Linked DNA regions of Homo sapiens: region 2 is linked to region 1. A link means that fine-mapping ties the variant in region 1 to the expression of a gene that starts in the linked region. Tissue or cell type: tibial nerve. Region 1 holds a variant in brackets; the other region holds the start of a gene. All regions are shown on one strand. Distances are from middle to middle.

Region 1 (7,872 bases):
AATGGAGGAGTCCAGCTTCACATGTGTTCTTGACAGGGCTGTATTTTCTTTTTAGAGTGAGTTTTTCTCAGGTCCTTGATTGGAACTGCCTCAGAGCCAAGGGTCCTTTTACTCAGTGGCAGCAACAAACGCAGTCTGTTGGCTAGTGATCCTCCTGTCTCAGGGACACGTAGTCCAGGGAGCAGCCAATTGCTTGGCACTTGGGGACCCCGTTCTGGGGAGTCCTGAAAGCTTTCACCTCTTGGATTGCCGAATACATGGGTGGCCCTTCCTAGACTAAGGGACTGGCCTGAGTGAGGCTGGGCCTCTCAGCCAAGCTGATGTTGAACCACTGCTGTGGGGATGGGCCTGGGGTTCCTGGGAAGCTGTTCATACCCATTGCCAGGAGCGTGGGCTCTGGCTGGACCTGGATCAGATCCTAACTGAAGCGGCAGCTTTCTGGCATGAGAAAGGAGTGTTTTCATGGTGGACAGAATTGGGCTATGAGTGTGGCAGAAGCTGTGTCCTCAGTACTCCGTGATGACGAGTGAGCCTCTGTGAAATGGACAGGTGGGAAAACAGCTACCTGCTGGCCTGCCCAGGCACCCGCCACGGGCCCACGCTGCTCAGCTTCTCAATGTGAGACTGTCCACACCTGCGAGGTGTGCTAAAGGTGCAGGTTAGGTGGACTGACCCCAGGACCTCCCTGACCCCCAACCAGGCCAGCGGAAGCCTGCCACCTCCTATGTGCGGACCACCATCAACAAGAATGCTCGCGCCACGCTCAGCAGCATCAGACACATGATCCGCAAGAACAAGTACCGCCCCGACCTGCGCATGGTGAGCTGGGGTTTGGGGATCAGGCTTGGGGAGACTGGCCAGTGCTGTGGGGAAGGGCCTCCCACTACTGGTTGCAATATGGGCTGGAGAGGGATGGATTCTTGCTTTCAGCCTACTCCCCACACCCAGCATTGGCCTAGGGGGCGGCTTGTGGAGTGTATGGGCTGAGCCTTGCTCTGCTCCCCCGCCCCCAGGCAGCCATCCGCAGGGCCAGCGCCATCCTGCGCAGCCAGAAGCCTGTGATGGTGAAGAGGAAGCGGACCCGCCCCACCAAGAGCTCCTGAGCCCCCTGCCCCCAGAGCAATAAAGTCAGCTGGCTTTCTCACCTGCCTCGACTGGGCCTCCCTTTTTGAAACGCTCTGGGGAGCTCTGGCCCTGTGTGTTGTCATTCAGGCCATGTCATCAAAACTCTGCATGTCACCTTGTCCATCTGGAGGTGATGTCAATGGCTGGCCATGCAGGAGGGGTGGGGTAGCTGCCTTGTCCCTGGTGAGGGCAAGGGTCACTGTCTTCACAGAAAAAGTTTGCTGACTTGTGATTGAGACCTACTGTCCCATTGTGAGGTGGCCTGAAGAATCCCAGCTGGGGCAGTGGCTTCCATTCAGAAGAAGAAAGGCCTTTTCTAGCCCAGAAGGGTGCAGGCTGAGGGCTGGGCCCTGGGCCCTGGTGCTGTAGCACGGTTTGGGGACTTGGGGTGTTCCCAAGACCTGGGGGACGACAGACATCACGGGAGGAAGATGAGATGACTTTTGCATCCAGGGAGTGGGTGCAGCCACATTTGGAGGGGATGGGCTTTACTTGATGCAACCTCATCTCTGAGATGGGCAACTTGGTGGGTGGTGGCTTATAACTGTAAGGGAGATGGCAGCCCCAGGGTACAGCCAGCAGGCATTGAGCAGCCTTAGCATTGTCCCCCTACTCCCGTCCTCCAGGTGTCCCCATCCCTCCCCTGTCTCTTTGAGCTGGCTCTTGTCACTTAGGTCTCATCTCAGTGGCCGCTCCTGGGCCACCCTGTCACCCAAGCTTTCCTGATTGCCCAGCCCTCTTGTTTCCTTTGGCCTGTTTGCTCCCTAGTGTTTATTACAGCTTGTGAGGCCAGGAGTTTGAGACCATCCTAGGCAACATAATGAGACACCGTCTCTAAAATAAAATTAGCTGGGTGTGGTGGTGCACCGCCTGTGGTCCCAGCTCCTCAGAGGTTGAGTAGAGGCTGAGGTGAGCGGAGCACTTGAGCCAAGAGTATGAGGCTGCAGTGAGCCCATGAGCCCCACCACTACACTCCAGCCTGGAAGACACCATGACACACAGTGAGGCCTGGATGGGGAAAGAGTCCTGCTGTTGATCCTCACATGTTTCCTGGGCACCTAACTCTGTCAGCCACTGCCAGGGACCAAGGATCCAGCATCCATGGCACCCCTGGTTCCTGCCATCCTGGGGTACCCGATTCAAAGAAGGACTCTGCTCCCTGTCTGAGACCACCCCCGGCTCTGACTGAGAGTAAGGGGACTGTCAGGGCCTCGACTTGCCATTGGTTGGGGTCGTACGGGGCTGGGAGCCCTGCGTTTTGAGGCAGACCACTGCCCTTCCGACCTCAGTCCTGTCTGCTCCAGTCTTGCCCAGCTCGAAGGAGAGCAGATCTGACCACTTGCCAGCCCCTGTCTGCTGTGAATTACCATTTCCTTTGTCCTTCCCTTAGTTGGGTCTATTAGCTCAGATTGAGAGGTGTTGCCTTAAAACTGAGTTGGGTGACTTGGTACCTGCTCAGGACCCCCCGCACTGTCCCAATCCCACTCAGGCCCACCTCCAGCTGGCCTCACTCCGCTGGTGACTTCGTACCTGCTCAGGAGCCCCCACTGTCCCAGTCCCACTCAGGCCCATCTCTGGCTGGCCTCACTGCGCTGGGACTCCGCCTTCATAAGGAGAGCTCACTGCTCACGTTAGTAGATGGCCCCTTCTCGTGAGGCCTCTCCCCTGGCACCTGCTTCAGTTGTCCTCCACAGCACTGATTTGCAGCCCACAAGCTGGCAGGTTTATCTGTCTCATGTTTGTCTTGTGCTGGTGGGCAAGGGGTTTGTCTAGCACACCAGCATATAATGAGATGCTTGATGAATGGTGCATATTGAATGTATAAAGCCCACCGGTCCTGAGAGTTTGCTCACTGGAGACTTTCTGGAGATGGAGTCTCGCTCTGTTGCCCAGGCTGGCGAGTGCAATGGCGCGATCTTGGCTCACTGCAGCCTCCACCTCCTGGGTTCAAGCGATTCTCCTGCCTCAGCCTCCCGAGTAGCTGGGATTACAGGTGGGTGTCACCACACCCAGCTCAGTATTGTATTTTTAGCAGAGATGGGGTTTCACCATTTTGCCCAGGCTGGTTTGGAACTCCTGACTTCAAATTACCCACCTGCCTCAGCCTCCCAAAGTGCTGGCATTACAGGCGCTCGAGGCTTTCTGATGTGGCTGCTGCTGCTCAGAAGGCCTTGTCCTTAACCACCTCCTTGCCTGCCCTGGAGGCTTGTGCCTCTAGGCCCCACCCCCTGTGGAGTCCTGCTGGCTTTCTCCATCCCTATCTGAATCCTCCCTGCTGTGTGGCCTCCCCTGGTCTCATCCGTAACACAGCCCAGCTTAGTGGGCCTCTGTTCCTGCGGGTGGCCAGCCTGTCTGTGTGGCTGGGCTGGGGAGGCCACGTCTGGTATCTGAATGCTATCGGTGGGTTGGGGTGGAGGAACCAGGAGAGGGCTGGAGGGAGGGAGATGGTCTCAGCCCCACAGAGTTTGGA[G/A]TCCTCAGTGTGCTGAGCAAACGTGGAGACACCATTTCCCTCCTCTAGACCTCATCTTGGAGAGAGAGATGTTGGATGGGGCCATCTATTCCAGCTTTATTCACACAAATCATGTCTGTTGGCCTGGAAATTGGAAAACCAGTTAAACCAAAAACATGATATTAAGAAAACAGGCAGGCTCACCATAGTAAAAATGCTGAAAGCCAAAGACAAAATTGGGAGAACAAAAGAAAAGCGTCTTGTCACATACAGAAGGTCCCTGATAAAGTTAGTAGCTGCCCTCATCAGAAACCAGGCCCAGGCAGTGGGGACACATCCAGAGTGCTGAAAGAACCTCCCCCAGGTCATCCTATCCCCAAGAGTGATGCCCGGCAGCATTCCCAGCTCAGGGCTAATGGTTCACGGAAGCCAGGAATCAAACTGCCTGGGTTCCAGTCCCAGCTCTGCCAGTTATGCCCAGCTGTGGGGACTTGGGCAGCTCGTTTAGTAGCACCGTGCCTCAGTTTCCCATATGTAAAAGGCCATTTTGAGTGCCTTTCACAGCCCTGCATAAGGCAGGTGTCTCAGTGTTCACTGCTGTCTCTCCAGCTCTTAGTCCAGTAGCTGCATGGTGAGTGAGCGTAGGGCGCACCCTGGAAGGCTGCCAAGCCCAAAGTTGTGCAGAGCGCTGGGGACTCCAGACTCCCCACAGCAGCAGAGACTCGGGACTGAGGCATCCTCTGTTCACAGGACATGCTGGCATCTACTGGGTCAGGGCTCTGCTGCTCGGTGGCTGTGCAACCTTGGGCAAGTTCCTCAACCTCTCTGTGTCTTCGTACCCTCATCTGTAACATGCGTGTCGATAGACCCTACTACTCAGGGTTGATGAGAAGATTAAATGTGCAAAACCTGCTTGACTGTGCCCACAAATCCTGATTGTAGGAATAAATTAATGACTTTTTATAAATATTTTGATCAGATGGACTCATGATCACAGATGTCTTCACATGCCTATGACTAATTTGTACACAAACTAATGCTCGTGTTTCCCAAGCACCTGGAAGACATGCCAGATCCATGTGCAGTAATGCCTGGTGGCTCCAGGTCTGCCCCGCCGTCCTGTGGGGCTGTGAGCTTTCCCAGCCTCCTGCCCGTGTTTGTGAATATCATTCTGTCCTCAGCTGCATTTCCAGCCCAGGCTGTTTGGCGCTGCCCAGGAATGGTATCAATTCCCCTGTTTCTCTTGTAGCCAGTTACTAGAATAAAATCATCTACTTTAAAATCTTTCATTATGAAATATGCATGTGGTCTTGAAAAACTGCAAATGAAAGAAGAGTATGCAGGGGAAGAAAATCTCAGAATCCCAGCCCCTAAGTTAGCCACCTGTGCTTCTCCTTTTTGGAAACTTCACACATATGCATGCAGATCTCCTCTTTTTGTTTGTCTAAGAGACGGGGTCTCACTGTTGCCTGGGTTGGAGTGCAGTGGCGCAATCACGGCTCACTGCAGCCTCTAACTCCTGGGCACTCTCAATTGTCCCGCCTTAGCCCCTTGTGTAGCTGGGACTAAGGTGTGCAGCACCACGCCTGGCTAATTTAAAAAGATATTTTGTAGAGACAGGGTCTCACTGTGTTGCCCAGGCTGGTCCTGAAGTCCTGGGCACAAGCAATCCTCCTGACTTCGTCCCCCAAAGTGTTGGGATTACAAGCGTGAGCCACTGCACCCAGCCTCATCTTTTTTTTTTTTTGAGGCGGAGTCACGCTTTGTTACCCAGGCTGGAGTGCAGTGGCGCGACCTCGGGTGAGCTACGCCTCCCAGGTTCACGCCATTCTCCTGCCCCAGCCTCCCCAGGAGCTGGGACTACAGGCGCCCGCCACCACGCCCGGCTAAATGTTTTTTGTATTTTTAGTAGAGACGGGGTTTCACCGTGTTAGCCAGGATGGTCTCGATCTCCTGACCTCGTGATCCGTCCGCCTCGGTCCCCCAAAGTGCTGGGATTACAGGCGTGAGCCACCGCGTCCGGCCCCAGCCTCATCTTTTAATGTCTTACACAGATTGGATCATGGCAACAGGAACCTCCCCCTTGCTCCTTTTCCCTAATGCACTGGGCTGTCTCTCCATCAGCACACACAGGCTGCGGGCCCCTTTCGATGGCCATCAGCGCTGCATTGATGAAGCCACTCATTTAAACACACCCCTCAATGGCTAATCCCCCAGAGGCTCCCCAGCACCCCTCTCCTCTGTTCCTCTTGAACACCTGGCCCTCCCCCAGGCCCAGCCATCCCTAGCATGTCTGAATCACACCTCCAGCGGCCCCAGCTCCCACCGGCCTCCCACACCCGCCCGCTCCCCTGCTGTCCCTCCAGGCTGTTCTCTACACAGTAGCAAATTGATCTTTACAAATGATAAATGAGACCTGTCATCCTCCCTTGGCCGACGCACCCCCCCCCCCCCCCGACCCCCATGAGGAATAAAAGCCCAAACCTTTCTCTAGGGCCAGCAAGGCCCGGGATCTGGCCCTGTCCAGTCTCCCCAGCCTCCTTAGGCTGTAATCTCTGAGGCCTCTCTCCTCCCTGAAGCTCCTAGCTGGTCCCTAGGCTCAGATGAAGACTGTCTCCAAAAAAAGAAAAAGGTATAATTCACGTAACATAAAGTCCACGCTTTTAGAGTGCACAATTCAGTGATTTTTAGTCTTCACAAAGCTTTGCAACCACAACCCCTATCTTATTCCAGAACATTTCATCATCCTGAATGGACACCCAGTATCCATGAAGCAGCCACTCCCACTCATGTCCCCTCTAGCCCCTGCCCTGCCAATCACCAATTTGTTTTTTTTTTTTTTTTTTTGAGATGGAGTCTTGCTCTGTCGCCCTGGCTGGAGTGCAATGGCATGACCTTGGCTCACTGCGACCTCAGCTCACTGCAACCTCCACCTCCTGGGTTCAAGCGATTCTCCTGCCTCAGCCCCTCAAGTAGCTGGGATTACAGGGGCCCGCCACCACGCCTGGCTAATTTTTGTATTTTTAGTAGAGACGGGGGTGTCACCATGTTGGCCAGGCTGGTCTCGAACTCCTGACCTCAGGTGATCTGCCTGTGTTGGCCTCCCAAAGTGCTGGGATTACAGGTGTGAGCCACTGCACCCAGCTACAAGTCTTTTTTTTAAAGGGACAGGGTCTCAGCTGGGTACGGTGGCTCACTCCTGTAATCCCAGCACTTTGGGAGGCCCAGGCAGGCGGATCACAAGGTCAGGAGATCAAGACCATCCAGGCTAACACAGTGAAACCCTATCTATACTAAAAATACTAAAAACTGGCCAGATGTGGTGGTGTGCGCCTGTAGTCCCAGCTACTTGGCAGGCTGAGGCAGGAGAATCGCTTGAATCCAGGAGGCGGAGGTAGCAGTGAGCCAAGATCACGCCACTGCACTCCAGCCTGTGTGACAGAGCGAGACTCCGTCTCAAAAACAAACAAACAAACAAAAAGATAAAGGTCTGTTGCTCAGGCTGGAGTGCTGTGGCACAATCTCGGCTCACTGCAGCCTTGAACTCCTGGGCTCAAACAATCCTCCCACCTCAGTCTCCGAAGTAGCTGGCACCACCGGTGTGCTCCACCACACCCAGCTAAGTTTTAAATATTTTTGTAGAGACAAGGTCTCACTGTGTTACCCAGGTTGGGCTTGAATTCCTGACCTCAAGTGATCCTCCTGCCTTGGCCTCTAAAAGTGCTGGGATTACAGGTGTGAGCCACTGCACCTAGCCCAGAATTTCTATTTATTTATATATATTTTTAAAAAGAATCTCACTCTGTTTTCCAGGCTGGAGTGCTGTGGCAAGATCAAGGCTCTCTGTAGCCTTGAACTCCTGGGCTGAAACAGTCCTCCCACCTCAGTCTCCAGAGAGGCTGGGACCACAGGTGTGTGCTGCCACACCCAGCTAATTTTTAAAATTGTTTTGTAGAGACACGATCTCACTATGTTGTCCAGGCTGGTCTTGAACTCCTGGGCTCAATCCTCCCAAAGTGCTGGGATTATAGGCGTGAGCCACTGTGCCTGGCCCCACCCAGAATTTTTAAAACATGAAAAAGCTTATGTTTTGGGCCAATCTCTAAAATATATTAAGTGAAAAAAAGCAACCTGCAAATAGTGTAAATGATATGCCAACATTCCTGTTAAATATTTTTAAATATTTAAACAATAAGATGCATGTGTATTTGCTTGTATATGCATCGAATGCCTCTGGATAGTCACAATATGCAAACATTTGTCTCAAGGAAGGAGAGTTGGAATACCATGTGATGAAT
Region 2 (6,350 bases), 52 kb before region 1:
AAAAAAAAGGAACAGACAGTAAATATAATGAACTGATGAACTCATGTCAGTGGGATTGAAAATCAAATAACTAAAAAAGAAAGAAAAGAGGCCGGGCACGATGGCTCACGCCTGTAATCCCAGCACTTTGGGAGGCCAAGGTGGGTGGATCACAAGGTCAGGAGATCGAGACCATCCTGGCTAACAGAGTGAAACCCCATTTCTACTAAAAATACAAAAAATTAGCTGGGCGTGGTGGTGGGCACCTGTAGTCCCAGCTACTCGGGAGGCTGAGGCAGGAGAATGCCGTGAACCCGGGAGGCAGAGCTTGCAGTGAGCTGAGATCGCACCACTGCACTCCAGCCTGGGCAACAGAGCGAGATTTTGTCTCAAGATAAAAAAAAGAAAGAAAAGAAAAAGAAAGAAGGAAGGAAGGAAAGAAAGGGAAAGAAAGAAAGAAAAGAAAGAAAGAAATGCAGTTTTGTTACAGGTGTAGTTAAAAAAAATAGAGATAAAAAGAAAAATATAATGAACTCATGGATTCCACCACAGGGCTTAAACAAAATTTCCAAATACCAATGTCCCGTGTAGCTTTCCCGATTGCATTCTTCCCTCCCCACCCTCAGGGGCGGCCGCTTCCCTCCCCATGCTGTGTTAGTCATGCCCTTCACGTGTGTATCCTTTTGCCACATGTATCCACATGCAACCATTGTTTTGTTTTGCTTTGTTTTTTGAGATGGAATTTCGCTCTTGTCATCCAGGCTGGAGTGTAGTGGTGCAATCTCGGCTCACTGCAACCTCTGCCTCCTGGGTTCAAGCAATTCTCCTGCCTCAGCCTCCTAAGTAGCTGGGATTACAGGTGCCTGCCACCATGTGCGGGTAAATTTTTGTATTTTTAGTAGAGACGGGGTTTCATCATGTTGGCCAGGCTGGTCTCGAACTTCCGACCTCAGGTGATCCACCGGCCTCGGCCTCCCAAAGTGCTGGGATTACAGGCGTGAGCGGCTGTGCCCAGCCATTGTATGTGTTTCAAAACTTCGTGTCAATGGCATTGTAGACTTCTGCAACTACGGGTTGTCCCGGGTGATATATGGGACACTGGTGCATCTACTTTCACTGACATATGGTGTTCCCCTGTATCAATATACCAGGATCCATGTTTCCATTCTTCTGGTGATGGAAACCGTTTCCAGTTCCTCACCGTTACAAACACGATAGCGAGCATTCTTGCATTTATCTCTTTATTCCAAGTCGGAGAGTTTCTCTAGAGTGTACACCCACCCACTAGTAGAAGGACTGTACTTCATACAGACTGATACAACTTTTCCAGTTAGCTGAGTTTCCATGAAGTCCTTTATGCTTGCCATTTCCCCCTCCCTGGGTAAGGCTGCTTTTCTCTTCTGGAGCTGGTCACCTGTCCCTCCCCACTGATGACCAGGAGTTACAGTTGGCATCACCTTGCTCTGGTATGGCCACCTCTGTCCACCTCTGTCTCCTCTAGCTGCTCCATGGCAAGTCCCCAGCCCCAGTTCCCTTCTGCCGGCATGGTCCTGGTCAAAGTGATGGTCCCGAGAAAGGTTTGGTCGACTTTAGCTGTAGTGGTGCCTGCCTGAGTTAGGGGGTATTTCAGAGCTCATGAGAGATTAGGGAGGTAAAGCATGGGGCTAGGGGATAGTCCCTGTTGGAGAAGAAATAGCATGAACAAAGGGTGGAAAGCTGGAAGCCAAACAAGTGTATGGTCTATGTTTTATAGATGGGAACCCAAAGCCCAGAGATGGCAAGTCACTTCCTCAAAGTCACAGAGCAATGCAGAGACTGTCAGCTTCATCCTTATTGGTTGGTCATTCACACATTCATTCAGTACATATTAACAAAGTGCCTAGGCCAGCCATGGTGGCTCACACCTGTAATCCCAGCACTTTGGGAGGCTGAGGTGGGTGGATCACCTGAGGTCAGGAGTTCAAGACCAGCTTGGCCAGCATGGCGAAACCCCACCTCTACTAAAAATACAGAAACTAGCTGGGCATGGTGGTGGGCACCTGTAATCCCAGCTACTCAGGAGGCTGAGGCAGGAGAATCACTTGAATTCGGGAGGCAGAGAGCCGAGATCGCACCACTGTACTCCAGCCTGGGCGACAGAGCAAGACCCTCTCTCAAAAAAAAAAAAAAAGAAGGGAGCATCACTTGAATGAGCCCCTAGAGAGACCCTGTCTCTACAAAAATTAAAGGATTAGCCGAGCATGGTGGCATGCGTCTGTGGTCCCAGCTACTCAGGAGGCTGAGGCTGTAGGATCGCTTGAACCCAGGAGGTCGAGGCTGCAGTGAGCCATCCTTGCACCACTGCACTCCAGCCTGGGCAACAGAGGAAGACCCTGTCTCAAAACACAATACAGGCCAGGCATGGTGGCTCATGCCTGTAATCCCAGCACTTTGGGAGGCTGAGGTGGGTGGATCACCTGAGGTCAGGAGTTCGAGACCAGCCTGACCAACATGGTGAAACCCCGTATCTACTAAAAAAAAAAAAAAAAAAAAAAATTAGCCGGGCATGGTAGTGCATGCCTGTAATCCCAACTATTTGGGAGGCTGAAGCAGGAAAATCGCTTGAACCTGGGCGGCGGAGGTTGCAGTGAGCCGACATCGCACCATTCCACTCCAGCCTGGGCAACAAGAGGGAACTCTGTCTAAAAAAAAATTAGCCAGGGGTGGTAGTGCATGCCTGTAATCCCAGCTACTTGGGAGGCTGAGGCAGGAGAATCGTTTGAACCTGGGAAGCAGAGGCTGCAGTGAGCCGAGATCACTCCACTGCACTCTAGCCTGGGCGAGAGAGCGATACTCTGTCTCTGTCTCTCTCTCTCTCTCTCTCTCTCTCTCTCTCTCTCTCTCTCTCTCTCTCTCACACACACACACACACACACACACACACACACCAAAACACCAAAAACAGCACACCAAAACAGCACCTACTCTGTGGCATGCATTGTTTTAAGTGCCCACGATCTATAGCTGTACAGTGGAGCGCATGTCTGACAGTGATCCTATATGTGTAGACACACAAGCGCCTACATTGTGTTACCGGACAGTAACATGCTGCACAGCTGTGTGGCCCAGGAGCCGCCGGCCACCTTACAGCCCAGGTGCCAGCAGCCCTGCCACGTAGGTGTGAGTGATGTTGCTCTAGGATGCTGGCAGGATGACGACATCGCCTGAGCACGCACTGCCCAGATGGTATCAGTGTCGTTAAGGGAAGAATGGCTGTGGCGAAACAAACAAACAAGCAAACAAAGACCGCCTGTTCTGAGTGTGGAGCTTATTATTCTCGGCGTAATTATGATGAATTGTTAGTTACGTTTGCCTCTAGGATTGAGGTAGGGGGGGTGATCCCAATTAGGGGGTGCCCCAGGGGAGCGCCCCAGGAGTCAGGGCTTGTCTCAAAAGTCCCCACTCCTCCCTCAGCCTCCCCTCCCTCCATCCGACCCCGTTCATATCGCGGGAAGGTCCCACAGAGTGCGTGTGGATACTCCCAAAACGCAACGGTGTAAACGGGGAGGGAGGGAGAGAGACTGAGGAGCCCTTTGTAGCCAGGCAGAGCTGTCAATAAAGTTTCGTCGCCTTGGTAACCGCAGGCCTCGCGGGGCGGGAGGGGAGAGGGATGGCGGTGCGCGCGCATTCACCGCCTCCCTCCCGCCGGGTCTGGCTTTCTCCCTCCTGTGGCCGAAGCTTTCCTCGGAGAAATAGAAGAGGGAGGCCGCGACTCTATGGTGATGGACGGAGGCCTTACCCAATGGAAAGAGGAGCTGTCCCAAGGCCAGGCAATCATATACGACTACTGGAGCTGGCAGAGCCCGCCCTCTTTCCACTTGGACCTGAATAACCCGACCCAAACCGAGTTTCGCCCGGAGAGACTGCGCTTTCGGCCAATGAGTGCGTCGATTTCGAGCCCCAGTGTGAGCGAAGGCGGGACAAGTCTCCATGGCAGCGACTAAAGGACAGCGATGTGAACCACTGACAACAGTTCGCGGCGTTTGACGGCGGCGGGGGCGTGGCGGGGTTTTATCTGTGTATTGACGAGAGCCGGGCGCGGAGGGAAAGAGTGGGGCTTGGCCAATGGGAGCGCCGTGAGCTTCGTAGCAACGGAGGAGTGGCGGTGGCTGTGGCCAATAGAAAGCCTCAGTGGCCTTGGCGGGGCTGGCCCGGAGAGCAGATGGGAGGTGCGGCGACAGTGTTTGACGAGAGCCGAAGGAGGCTGTGGGAGGTGTTGGCGGCGGCGGCGCGGGCGCCTGAGGAGGAGGAGGAGAAGCGGGTGAGGGGCGGCGCGGGGCCCGATCTCTGAGCCCCTTCACGGCCCCAGCCCCGCGCCGCCTTGGCTCCCCAGTCGCCCCCTGCCCCGACTGCCCCCCACCCCGCCCGGCCCCTCCTCGTGTCCAGGCGCCCACGTCTCCCGGCCCCTCGCCGGGCCTCGGGCTCCGCGGCACTGCAGCCTCCTTCCTGTGCTTCCTCACCCGGGCCCTGACCCCCTTCTTACGTCCACGGCCCTCCCTGCATCCTCAGGGCCTCTCCCTGACCTCTTGTCACTCTCCAGGCCTCTCCCTGCACCCCCCAGGGCCTTTCCCTGACCTCACCCTCCAGGCCTCTCCCTGCACCCCCAGGTCTCTCCCTGCACCCTCAGGGCCTCTCCCTGACCCTTCTCTCACCCCCGGGACCTCCCTGCACTCCCAGGGCCAATCCCCGACCTCCTCTCACCCTCCAGGCCTCCTTCTGGACCCTCTAGGTCTTTCTGTGCCCTAGAACCTCTCCCTGACCCCTCTGTCCCTCTCCTGGCACTCCCTGGACCCTGAGGTCGGCCTCTGACCCTCCAGGTCCCTTGCCCTGGGCTCTCACCGCCTACCCAGGCGCCTCCCTGGGTCCCCAGGCCCTTCCCTAGGGTCTCCCTTTCCTGGATCCCCCAGGACCCCACCAAGCCCGTTTGGATCCCTGGGCCCCTGTCCGCCCTCTCAGGCCCTTCACTCACTGGACACCCAGGATCTTCTCCGCCATCCCTGGACCGCCCCCCGACCCAGGTCTCCCGTCTGGCTCCTCCCTGAGTCCCTAGGCCATTCCCCGCTCTCTGTCCTCCCTGGCACCCCCATCCCTTCCTCACACCCCTCTGAGCGCCCCCAGGCCCGGCTGCAGCCTTCTCCCTCCCACAGCCCCCTGCCGTGCCCACCGCTGTGCGTTTCTCTCCTTGCCCCCAGCCCCCTCTCCAGCTTCCCCGCTGTCCCTGGCGTCCTCCTGCAGCGCCCCCTCTTTCTCTCCCGCAGCCTCGCAGTCTGTCCCCGACCCCTCCACAGCCGTCTCTGCAGCTCCCGCTCCTTGCCCTGCCCCATCTCCTCCTCTCCTGGGCGCGGATGAGCCTCGAGCGCCGTGGTGCGGGGACGAGGCTGGCCCTCCGTCCGGGTTAGGGGTTTGGGTGGTTTTCTTCATCTCTCCGTTCTCTCCTGGCTCCGCTTTAAAAAAATGTTTTTGTAAATATTGACCTGTGCTGCCTCCCCATAGTCTTCCTTTGCTCCCCTCCCCACCCCCGCTTTTGTCCTCTGAGCCCCCCTCCCCTGGAATCCTTGGAGAGGGAGCAGGTGCTGGGATCCCTCCCCTGCCCTCCCTCCCGTCACCCGCCTCCAGGCTGCCTGGGGCTTCACCCGGAGCCTCCTGACCACTCCCGAAGGCTGCCGGGGAGGCAGGGGGCGGAGACCGAGGCTGGGTCGAGGTGGGGGTGGAGGGCGGGACCTCGGGCTGGCGGGAAGCTTTGACTTTTCCTCCTTGAGGGCTAGAGGTGAAGCGGCTCCCCACGGTGCTAAGCCTTTAGGGTGATCCCGGCTGCCAATCAGTCAGCCTTCTCTGGGCCCAAAGAGATGTGTGTGTGTAGGGGGTCTCTGTACATATGGGCAGGGGCATCTGCGTGTGTCAGTCTGAGTGTGCATGGGTGTGCATGTGGGGGTTGTGTGTTTAGGGGGGATCTGTGTCTGCGCTGCGGAGCAAGAGCAAGAGCTAAGGCGATGGCTGACATGGCTCTGGGCTTTCCCTACTCTCAGAAGTACTTGTTGCATTCCATCTTCGCCAGCGGCCTGGTGAAGTCAGCACTGCTTTTCTCCCCATTTTGCAGATGAGATCGTGGGGCTCACCAGCGTCCCCCATGGCTTCTGAGTAGCGTGGGAGTGGAGTCAGCACCAAGCCAGGCTCCCCGCGCCTGCCTTGCCCTCACCTGCTCCTGCTCTCTGCCAGAGGCAGCATGGTCCGCAGGGCACCATGGGGCCCGACAGAGTGACAGCACGAGAACTGTGCGAGAACGACGACCTGGCCACCAGCCTCGTCCTGGACCCCTACCTCGGTTTCCGCAC

What was found. PIP is the estimated chance that this variant, and not a neighbour inherited with it, causes the effect.
Region 2: KMT5C starts here. The variant in region 1 is fine-mapped to the expression of KMT5C in tibial nerve (GTEx, PIP 0.95).

What each region holds. Positions count from the first base shown.
Region 1 is chr19:55,387,230-55,395,101 of GRCh38, forward strand. RPL28 (ribosomal protein L28) reads left to right here. Exons shown (of 5, transcript NM_000991.5): 4 at 701-819; 5 at 1,014-4,856. The coding sequence ends at 1,103. MIR6805 (microRNA 6805) reads left to right here and starts at 952; the gene lies at 952-1,013. The variant G/A (reference allele first, on the strand shown) is at 3,596.
Region 2 is chr19:55,335,679-55,342,028 of GRCh38, forward strand. KMT5C (lysine methyltransferase 5C) reads left to right here and starts at 4,198. Exons shown (of 9, transcript NM_032701.4): 1 at 4,198-4,279; 2 at 6,116-6,350. The coding sequence starts at 6,259. RefSeq lists enhancers at 2,342-3,116, 3,117-3,890, 4,200-4,269 and silencers at 4,290-4,349, 5,595-5,774.